Regions from separate parts of the Homo sapiens genome. Here all the other regions are linked to region 2. The links come from fine-mapping of genetic effects on gene expression. A gene starts in region 2. Each other region holds a variant in brackets. All regions are shown on one strand. Distances are from middle to middle. Region 1 has its middle 47 kb from the start of MANEA-DT. Region 2 holds the start of MANEA (mannosidase endo-alpha). Region 3 has its middle 25 kb from the start of MANEA-DT.

Region 1 (2,767 bases), 47 kb before region 2:
TGTTGAAATCCTAACTCCTAGTCTCTCAGAATGTGACTGTTTTTGGCAACAGGATGTTTAAAAGTAACTAAGGTAAAATAAGGTCATTAGAGTGGGCCATAATACAATATGACTGGTGTCCTTATAGGAGGAGATTTGTACACAAAAAGGCACAGGAGAAAGACAGTAATTTACAAGCCAAGGGGAGGCTTCAGAAAAAAATAACCCTGCTGACATTTTGATCTCATACTTCTAGTCTGTAGACCTGTGGTAAGCTTATGTTGTTTAAGCTACTCTCTCTGCTGTAATTGTTTATGGTAGCCCTAGCAAACTAATGCAAGGTTGAGGAAGTAGTCAAGAGTTAGATGAAGTGGGGCCTTGGGTTAGTATTTGGCTTTAATTTTGAGATAGATGGGAAATTATTGGATAGTATTCAGGAGGAAATGAGATTATTGAATTTCTTTTCAAAGACGTCCCAACAGGTGGGTAGGACATTTCATGGAAGAGAGTATACTCTAATAACAGCCTTCACACCACAACTAATGTGAGCATGGCCTCCATCTCAAAGGCACATCATCAGTCTCTGGACTTAGCTTTGACATTTGTGAGAGCCCAAAATAGTAGTAACCTTGGAAATGATTGAGAGAGGAATGAAGGAGAGAGAAGTATTTTTATATGCAAAAAGGCATAAAAATAAAAAAAATCCCAATTTTGAAATTATACACATACCTTGTCACATTGTGATTTTAGGATAATTAACAGAATCTGGGTAGTTTTATTAAAAGAGAGGCTTGAGAATATTGATATTAAAGAATTTTACTGAAAGTAATATTTTATTTGGAGTTTAATGTGAACTTAATTTATATTTTATAAAGTAAATTAATTGTTATACTATTAAAATACTATAATAATGTATCTTACTCTGAAAAAAGAATTCAACATTGATTAAAATCAAGTGTATTCTCACAAATAGAGTTTTTCAAAATGTGATAACAAGTCTTCAAAAAATCTTTTCTTTCTTTATTACATTTTTATTTGAACCTAAAAAGTCTCTTCACTAAAATACAAAAATTGGGGTCTATGTTAGAATATTTTAGTTTTGTTTATATTGAATTCAGCACATTAGAACTCTAGTAACTTCAAATAATTTACATCAGTATAAAGGAATGGTCATAGATACACAATGGATGGATTTACATATGCATTTCAATCTGGTATCAATTCATTCAAATCAGCAACGCATAAGAATAGCCAAAAAGAAAATGCTGCTGTGACTAAATGTAAGGTTCTTAAAATGGTAGTAGAAAAAATATGTACAATAATACTTAAACAGTATTTTATTTAAACCTATCAAATACCATTTTCAAGAAAATAGAAATAAATACACTTGTTTACAAGCATGTTTACTAGGCACAAAGAAATGCAAAATATAATTCAGTGTTATTTAATATGAGTTTTCATCAACAGGCACATTTCTC[G/A]AATAACTTCCTGGAAATGGCATTACTGTGTTAAAGCAAAAAAGTTGCAGGGGACAAGATCAGCAGACCAAAGTTGATTTTATTCCGATATTATTGACAGCAATAAGTGAGAGAGCACAGAGCAATTCTGGATACCCAGATCCAGCTCCATACCAAGATAAAGGGCTAGAGGGTTTTTTAGCACTGGAGTGACCTAGCAAAAAAGTTCTGGAAGACATTAATGGGGTAGTTGATCAATGAAATGTGTTGAGTACATTGAGTTATTCTTGAGTTTACAAATGGTTTTCTCTGGGCTTAGGCTATCTGTGTTTGCTAATTGGTGTCCACTTCTTCCCTCCCACAGATACTGAGAGATAGAAGCACTCTCTTCCTTAATGATTACATTTCAAAGGGCTGGTTACCAGGCCCTCTGGAAAAGCACTCCTAGGTTGTAAAATTGCAAGAGGCTGAGAGCGATTTACATACATTTAAAATTGGCAGAGAAAAAATACATACTTGCAAATTTTCTTGTCAATGCTCTAACAAAAGAGAAGATGGAGGCCTATAGTCAGTATGAAACCTGTCTAAAGTTTAGTCAAGCTGAGAGGAACATTAAGCCAGTTTAGGTCAACTGCAAGGTAGGTCACATTAAGCATTTTAGTTAAATTTATTTTTTAAAAAATTTTAGGATTAATGATTGTAGTTTTAGGTTTTAGTATGTCATTTTCTTAAAAGTAGGTATATCACATAATTTTACACCCTCCTCAATTCTTATATACAGCAACATGCAGAAGGAAATATTTTTAGTTAGGGAGAGTATGGGCTTCAGAAATTACCCTGACCCAAATCTGCCGCATAATAACTGTGTGACCTTCAGTACATGGTAACCTTCTTCTGTCTTGTAAAATGAAAACAATGATAGCCATCTTACACAATCTTTGGCTAAATCTAACAACATATTATTGTAAAACATCTAATATACTGACTAGCACAAATAAGACAGCTGTCAAATACCATTTCCCTCCTCCTAATGCCCATAAGATTGTTGGAATAAAGCTTAGAGTTCAAAAAAATAACAATCTTCTGATAGGAGGAAAATATCTGTATTCTCTACCATCTTTTTTCCCTTCAAACACATATAATATAACTCATATGACTGAATGTTTAGAACAAGGTTCTTGAAGTTGCCAGTTTGGGAATTCCATGACTTAGTGCACCAGTGGCTTCTGTGACCTTAATAGAACCTCTGGGCCAGTGCTCATTCATTTCTGAAATAGACACAATACTGGAAAACATCTTTATTTCACAAGGGTGCTTTTTGCACTACTGAA
Region 2 (2,767 bases):
ACATTTGCAACACATGTAACTTACAAGAGAGAATTAAACTAGAAAAAATAAATATTATCTACAAAATAATTTTCAAAAGCAAGCAATTTAATAAAAAATGAGATAAAATTAAGAACAGGCTTTAGCAAAAGGGAAAATGCAAATTAAAAGAGCAATCAGATGCTCTTATCAGCAAAAACTTAAAAAGTCTAACAATAGCATAAGGGTAACGATGTGCCAGTCTAGTTTATGGGAAATGGACTTGTATACAGACGAATCTCAAAACCTCTCAAAACCTAAATTAGTGAAAAAAGGGGAAAAATGAAGAATGATTCACATATGAAATATAAAACTAGGAAAATAGTATTTTTAGGGAATCGTACATATGTAACTATTTTCAGAAATACAACGGAATGAGTAATATAAAATTCAGCATAATGGTGAACGGAAGGAAGGAGATGTTTTTAGAGAGTCTTCTTTCTAGAAGACTCCAAAAATACTGGCATTTTTTTTTTCTTAAGCTCTGTAGTGGGTACCTGGGCATTTTTCATTCTTCTTTAAGATATGCACATGAGATATACTCATATGTATATTTCCCAATTAAAATTGGTGTACAAAATCTTTTTAAGGAGAGCCCTTATGAAACTGTTCACATCAGCAAGTTCTAGCTTGAATAAGGACTTCCTGTTACTATGTAACCAAACAAAAGATAGCATTTTCTTGTTTTCTGAAGCTAATGTAAGATGGAAACCTTCAGTTGTAATCCTATTTCAAAAGTTCTTGCTCTTCACATCTGACTTATCCTCAATTATTTCTAGTACTTCAGTACAGATGTGATTTTATAGAATACATTCGCAAATTAAAAACGCCATCTCCATCTGCCTACCTTGGGCTTCCAAGTAAAGTTCTATTTTTACAAAAATCAAAACAGTTCCTCAACTTTAAAAGTTTGAAAACCAGTGTACTTGTAAAGCACTTGATGCAAGCAACTTCTGAATGTTTCACATAAAAACAAACAAAAATGTGTCCTCTGTAATACAGTTAGAGCCTCCCAACAGAGCCTCAGAAGACCGTTTCTAAAGGCAGTGAGTTCTACTTGCAGAAATAGGGCGGGAGTGCAGTCTGACTCCAATCCACACGTCCTTCCCCTCTGACAGAACGCCCCAAAACGCAGTCCTCTCTTTCTTCCGCGCCGCTCCCGCCCTAGTCCTCTTAGACCCGCGACCGGAGGCTCCGGAAGACCCCGAGCCCCGCCCGCTCCGTGACCCCGCCCCCACCCGTCCCGCCCCTGAAAGCGCCCGGAACGCTGTGCGCGCGCCTTCGGGGAGGAGGGGCTGTCTGGGCTCGGGGCGCGGCGGCAGTCAGCTCTATGTTCGCGGTCTTAACCTCTCCTCTGGCCGAGTCCTTGCAAGAAGTGAATTACCCGACCCTGGTGAGTAGCTGCAGGAGTCAGACCTCTTGGAGGCGGCGGCGCCAGCAGCGGCGGCAGGCACGAGGTCCACCGCGGGCGCCTGCGCGCTCGCCCGCCAGCCAATCTGGTGGCCGCTTTCCTCCGGGCGCCCTTTGACCCGGCGCCCCTCTGGCAGGCGCTGGTGGCGCCCAGCGGCGAGCCTGTAGCCCCCTCGATTAACCTAGGCTGTCACTCTTAGGCCTGTTTTAGTCTGCGTTAGTTTTACTGCCTTTTACACTGCTTTATCCCCACCTCACTGGCCTCGTCGCCGCCTCCTCTTTGAAACGGTACCTCCTGTCGCCTCGGATTTTCCTTGTCTCCCCGACAAGGTGGAAATTTCGGGTCGGATGGAAGCCTTTTTCAGCACCTTCTCCTTGTGCCCCCAGACTGCCTCTGGGCCTTGAGCCGACCGGGAGAGTAGAAGGATCGAGGCCTGCTGGGCTCTGGGTGCAACGGAAAGGTAGCTGTCGCCTCTGGGCATCGGGAGGAGACCGCCCGATGGCGAGGCCGCTAGAGATGGTTTTTCAGTTCACCTGTTAACGTGTTTGGCACTGTCATCTTAGACTCTTAGCCTTTGCTAAGTCGGGATGCAACAGTGCTGGATTAGTGTTTTTGTTGTTCCTTTTTCCAAAGAAGCAACTTGAAGTACAGGCAGGTATAACTGTTTGGTTTTGTTGTTGTAAGACCCTACGGATAAGTGTTAGGAGAAAATGTGGAAGTGCTATAAAACAACAACAAGGGGGGGATAATGTTGATTAAGAACTTGAAAATAAGAAAAATGGGACTGGAATAGGCTGTTCACGTTAAAGTATTGAGGCAGTAGTTTGAAACAAAAATATAAAGTAAAACCTAGATATTGGTGATACTGTATCACGTTGTTTGCAAATCACTTTCATGACAATACATCTATTTCAGGTGTATCACACCTGAAAAAAACATGAGTGCTGTGAATTTGTGGATTTTCAGGCTCAATGCAGAAAAACACCCCCCAAAACAAAAAATCACAACAATGAAAACACCATTTCCAGAGCTGTTGCTGTTATTCGTGTGACGAATAGTGAATGTATGATCATAAAATAGAATAAGCTGTCTTTAGATGAAGTTTGGGCACAGTTTATGGAGTAGGTAACAGTTAATCATTGTTTATTAGGTACATAATCCTTAATTGAAAACATAACCATATAGCAGCAGCTTTCATCTTGTGTCACAAAAATAACTGGTGTATCCTCTAAATTTGATTTGTCTAATACCTTAAAGGAAGGCAGAATAGCATGGACAAGAACTTGAGTTCTTGAGCCAGACTCGATCTGCTCCTTGCTAGGTGATTAACCTTAGATT
Region 3 (2,767 bases), 26 kb before region 2:
ATCTCTTAGCTGTATATATGTACATCTTTCAGTAATTTTTTCCTCATGGAGAGAGTTCTTGTTATTATATCTGTCACTTCAATTTTTACCTTCCTCCTTTCAATTAACATCCTTCTTTTGTCAATCTGTTGATATTTCATCTTGTATTTTCTTTTTGTACCAGAGACCATATTTTAAAAATTGTACTAACGACACAAGCAGATGCTTTAAAAAATGTGCTTTAAATTTCTGATAATAAACCTTTTCCAAGGTATGTCCTTGCAGCTTAAATGCTGCTATATTTCTTTTATGTAGCATTTGCCAATATACTCACATATCTTTTATATCTGCTTATCCTGATGAGGAAAATATATATCCAAACAAGATATTTTTCCATAAACATTGTGGGTGAAATTATAGACCATCTGACTCTATTACAACCTCCCCTCACATGGATTTTGAGCCAGAGAGTTTATGGACCTGCAGAGTCTCTATCAAAATTTCTTATGTCCAGAAGACATTTATCTTTTTTGGCTGTCTGGTAGTCTTTTGAAAAGGATAATTCATAGTTCGATGATTGGAAATATTCTCTGGCTCTTCAGATACGCTGAGAGGGAAATGGGAGCAATCAGAATACAGGGCTTTGCAGCTCTTTCAACCACAGTACCTTCTACTGCTGCTGCCACATGCCTCAGCAGAGAGCACCAGTTGCCTTCCATGTCTGTCATTGGCAGGAATAAAACAATGATCATTTTATTTCTTAAATGAACAGAAAGAGCCACAGATGGGACAAACTGGATGATATGGTGGTCTTAAACGTTTTAGAAAACAGCTCCTTCCACAATATTAGAGGATTAAAAGGTTAGTGTTGTGGTTAGTACAGACATTGGGCATTGAGGCAAGAAACTGTCTGTGGCAGAACAATGCAGACTAATGATCTGTAGGTTTACTCTTTTAATATTCCTCAAGAGACATAATAAGTGTCAGTATCACCCATTAATTGAAGTTTTTTCTTTCAGTATTTTTCACTTGTAGGTGTCTGTCTATCCTCTGCTCCCTGTTCTCTAACAGCTGGGGTTTCCTAACCCCCATCCAGAGCCCTGTAGGTTCTAGGGCAAGATTTACCTAGATAGTTTTCTCTAGTCCAACCATCTGACACT[G/A]AGCTTTGTCATCTGTGCCACTGGTCTTGCTGTTGTTTTGAAATTTGTCTTGCCTTCATTCTCACATGAAGCTCTGAAGAACTGGGCCCCTGCCTTTCCCTCTGTGGATTCAATTCCCTCTCTTGGTTAGTTTCCCAATACTTTAGGTCCTCTGGGTTTACCCACGCTTGCGACAAAGAGAGGGATTGTAGTCTTGCCTTGACATTCAAAGCCTGTTGCCTGGTCTGAGGGGGACTTTCAGATGCCACCTGTCTGTCTGTCTTCTTGCCTGCCTCTCTGCCTCCCATCCAGGATTGCTAAATGCATCCCTAACAGCACGCTTTGTCTCTGACACCACAGCTTCCAAAACTAACATCTATTGTGATTCCTTTTCAACACTGTACTCTATGTCCTGAAATGCACTTTTCCTAACTCCTGGCAGCAAGTTCTATTTCACCACTATGGTTAGGCTCATCTCTAGGTCAAGGTTCCTCTAGGGTTATTCAAACCCGTTGTTCAGCCATACATGGTCATATTAAAAATAAGAAAACTCCAGATAGGTCAGTATTCTTATCTCTGGGTTATACTAGGTCCTTCTCGTTCCAGCCACCATACAACCAACTGATCACTGATTTAGGTGGTTTCTCATGCAAAATTTTTTTTTTTTTTTTTGAGACAGTCTCACTCTGTCGCCCAGGCTGGAGGGCAGTGGCACAATCTCAGCTCACGGCAACCTCTGCCTCCCGGGTTCAAGCAATTCTTCTGCCTCAGTCTCCTGCGTGGCTGGGATTACAGGCGCCCGCCGCCACACCCAGCTAATTTTTGTATTTTTGTAGAGATGGGGTTTCACCATGTTGCCCAGGCTGGTCTTGAACTCCTGACCTCAGGTGAGCCCTCTCAAAGTGCTAGGATTACAGGCGTGAGCCACCATGCCTGGCCACAAAATGTATTTTATAGTTGACCAATTTTCATGAACTTCACTAGAAGACCCTACATCAAGTCACTGTTATCCTTTACCTAGGATAAAAATGCTTCCAATGTTCTCCCTGTTTATTCCTGCTCCTGCCTCATTCCTTCTCCATAGGGCAGTCAAAAAATCCAGTCACTCCTCTGTTTAAAGCCCTTAAGGGACTTCCCACTTCTTTCACTTATTATTTAAAAAAAAAATTTGTTTAGACAGGTTCTCACTCTGTTGCCCAGGCTGGAGTGCAGTGATGCAAACACAGCTAACGGCTGCCTCGATCTCTTTGGCTTAAGCAATCCTCCTGCCTCAGCCTCCCAATTAGCTGGGACCACAGCCACCACCATGCCTGGCTAATTTTTACAAAAATTTTTGTAAAGACGGGAACTTGTTATGTTGCCCAGGCTGATCTTGAACTCCTAAGCTCAAGAGATCCTCCTGCCTGGGCCTCCCAAACTGCTGGAATCACAGGCATGAGCCACCATGCCTGGCCTCACATATTCTTTAAGCTTATGCTGTCACTCATCTTCATCTTCAGCTTCTTTCCCAGCTACTTTCTCTCTTATGCTCTATCCACACTGGACTGCTTTCAAGATTTTTATTTACATTCTCTTCTGTCTGGATTGCTTTCAATTCTTGTGGGCAAATGTTAACAAATTTATCCTTTATCCTCCTCAAATGGCATACC

The links. PIP is the estimated chance that this variant, and not a neighbour inherited with it, causes the effect.
Region 1: its variant is the best candidate, but not a certain one, in a credible set for the expression of MANEA in nasal epithelium (TOPMed, PIP 0.69).
Region 3: its variant is the best candidate, but not a certain one, in a credible set for the expression of MANEA in cerebellar hemisphere (GTEx, PIP 0.59).

Annotation. Positions count from the first base shown.
Region 1 is chr6:95,528,780-95,531,546 of GRCh38, forward strand. No RefSeq gene overlaps it. Among named protein-coding and RNA genes, the nearest start is that of MANEA-DT, 47 kb to the right of the region's middle. The variant G/A (reference allele first, on the strand shown) is at 1,458.
Region 2 is chr6:95,576,228-95,578,994 of GRCh38, forward strand. It overlaps MANEA (mannosidase endo-alpha), which reads left to right and starts at 1,308. Exons shown (of 5, transcript NM_024641.4): 1 at 1,308-1,411. It overlaps MANEA-DT (MANEA divergent transcript), which reads right to left and starts at 1,224. Exons shown (of 3, transcript NR_104136.1): 1 at 866-1,224. RefSeq lists silencers at 1,048-1,127, 1,178-1,267, 1,548-1,607 and enhancers at 1,404-2,344, 1,808-1,907.
Region 3 is chr6:95,550,603-95,553,369 of GRCh38, forward strand. No RefSeq gene overlaps it. Among named protein-coding and RNA genes, the nearest start is that of MANEA-DT, 25 kb to the right of the region's middle. The variant G/A (reference allele first, on the strand shown) is at 1,140.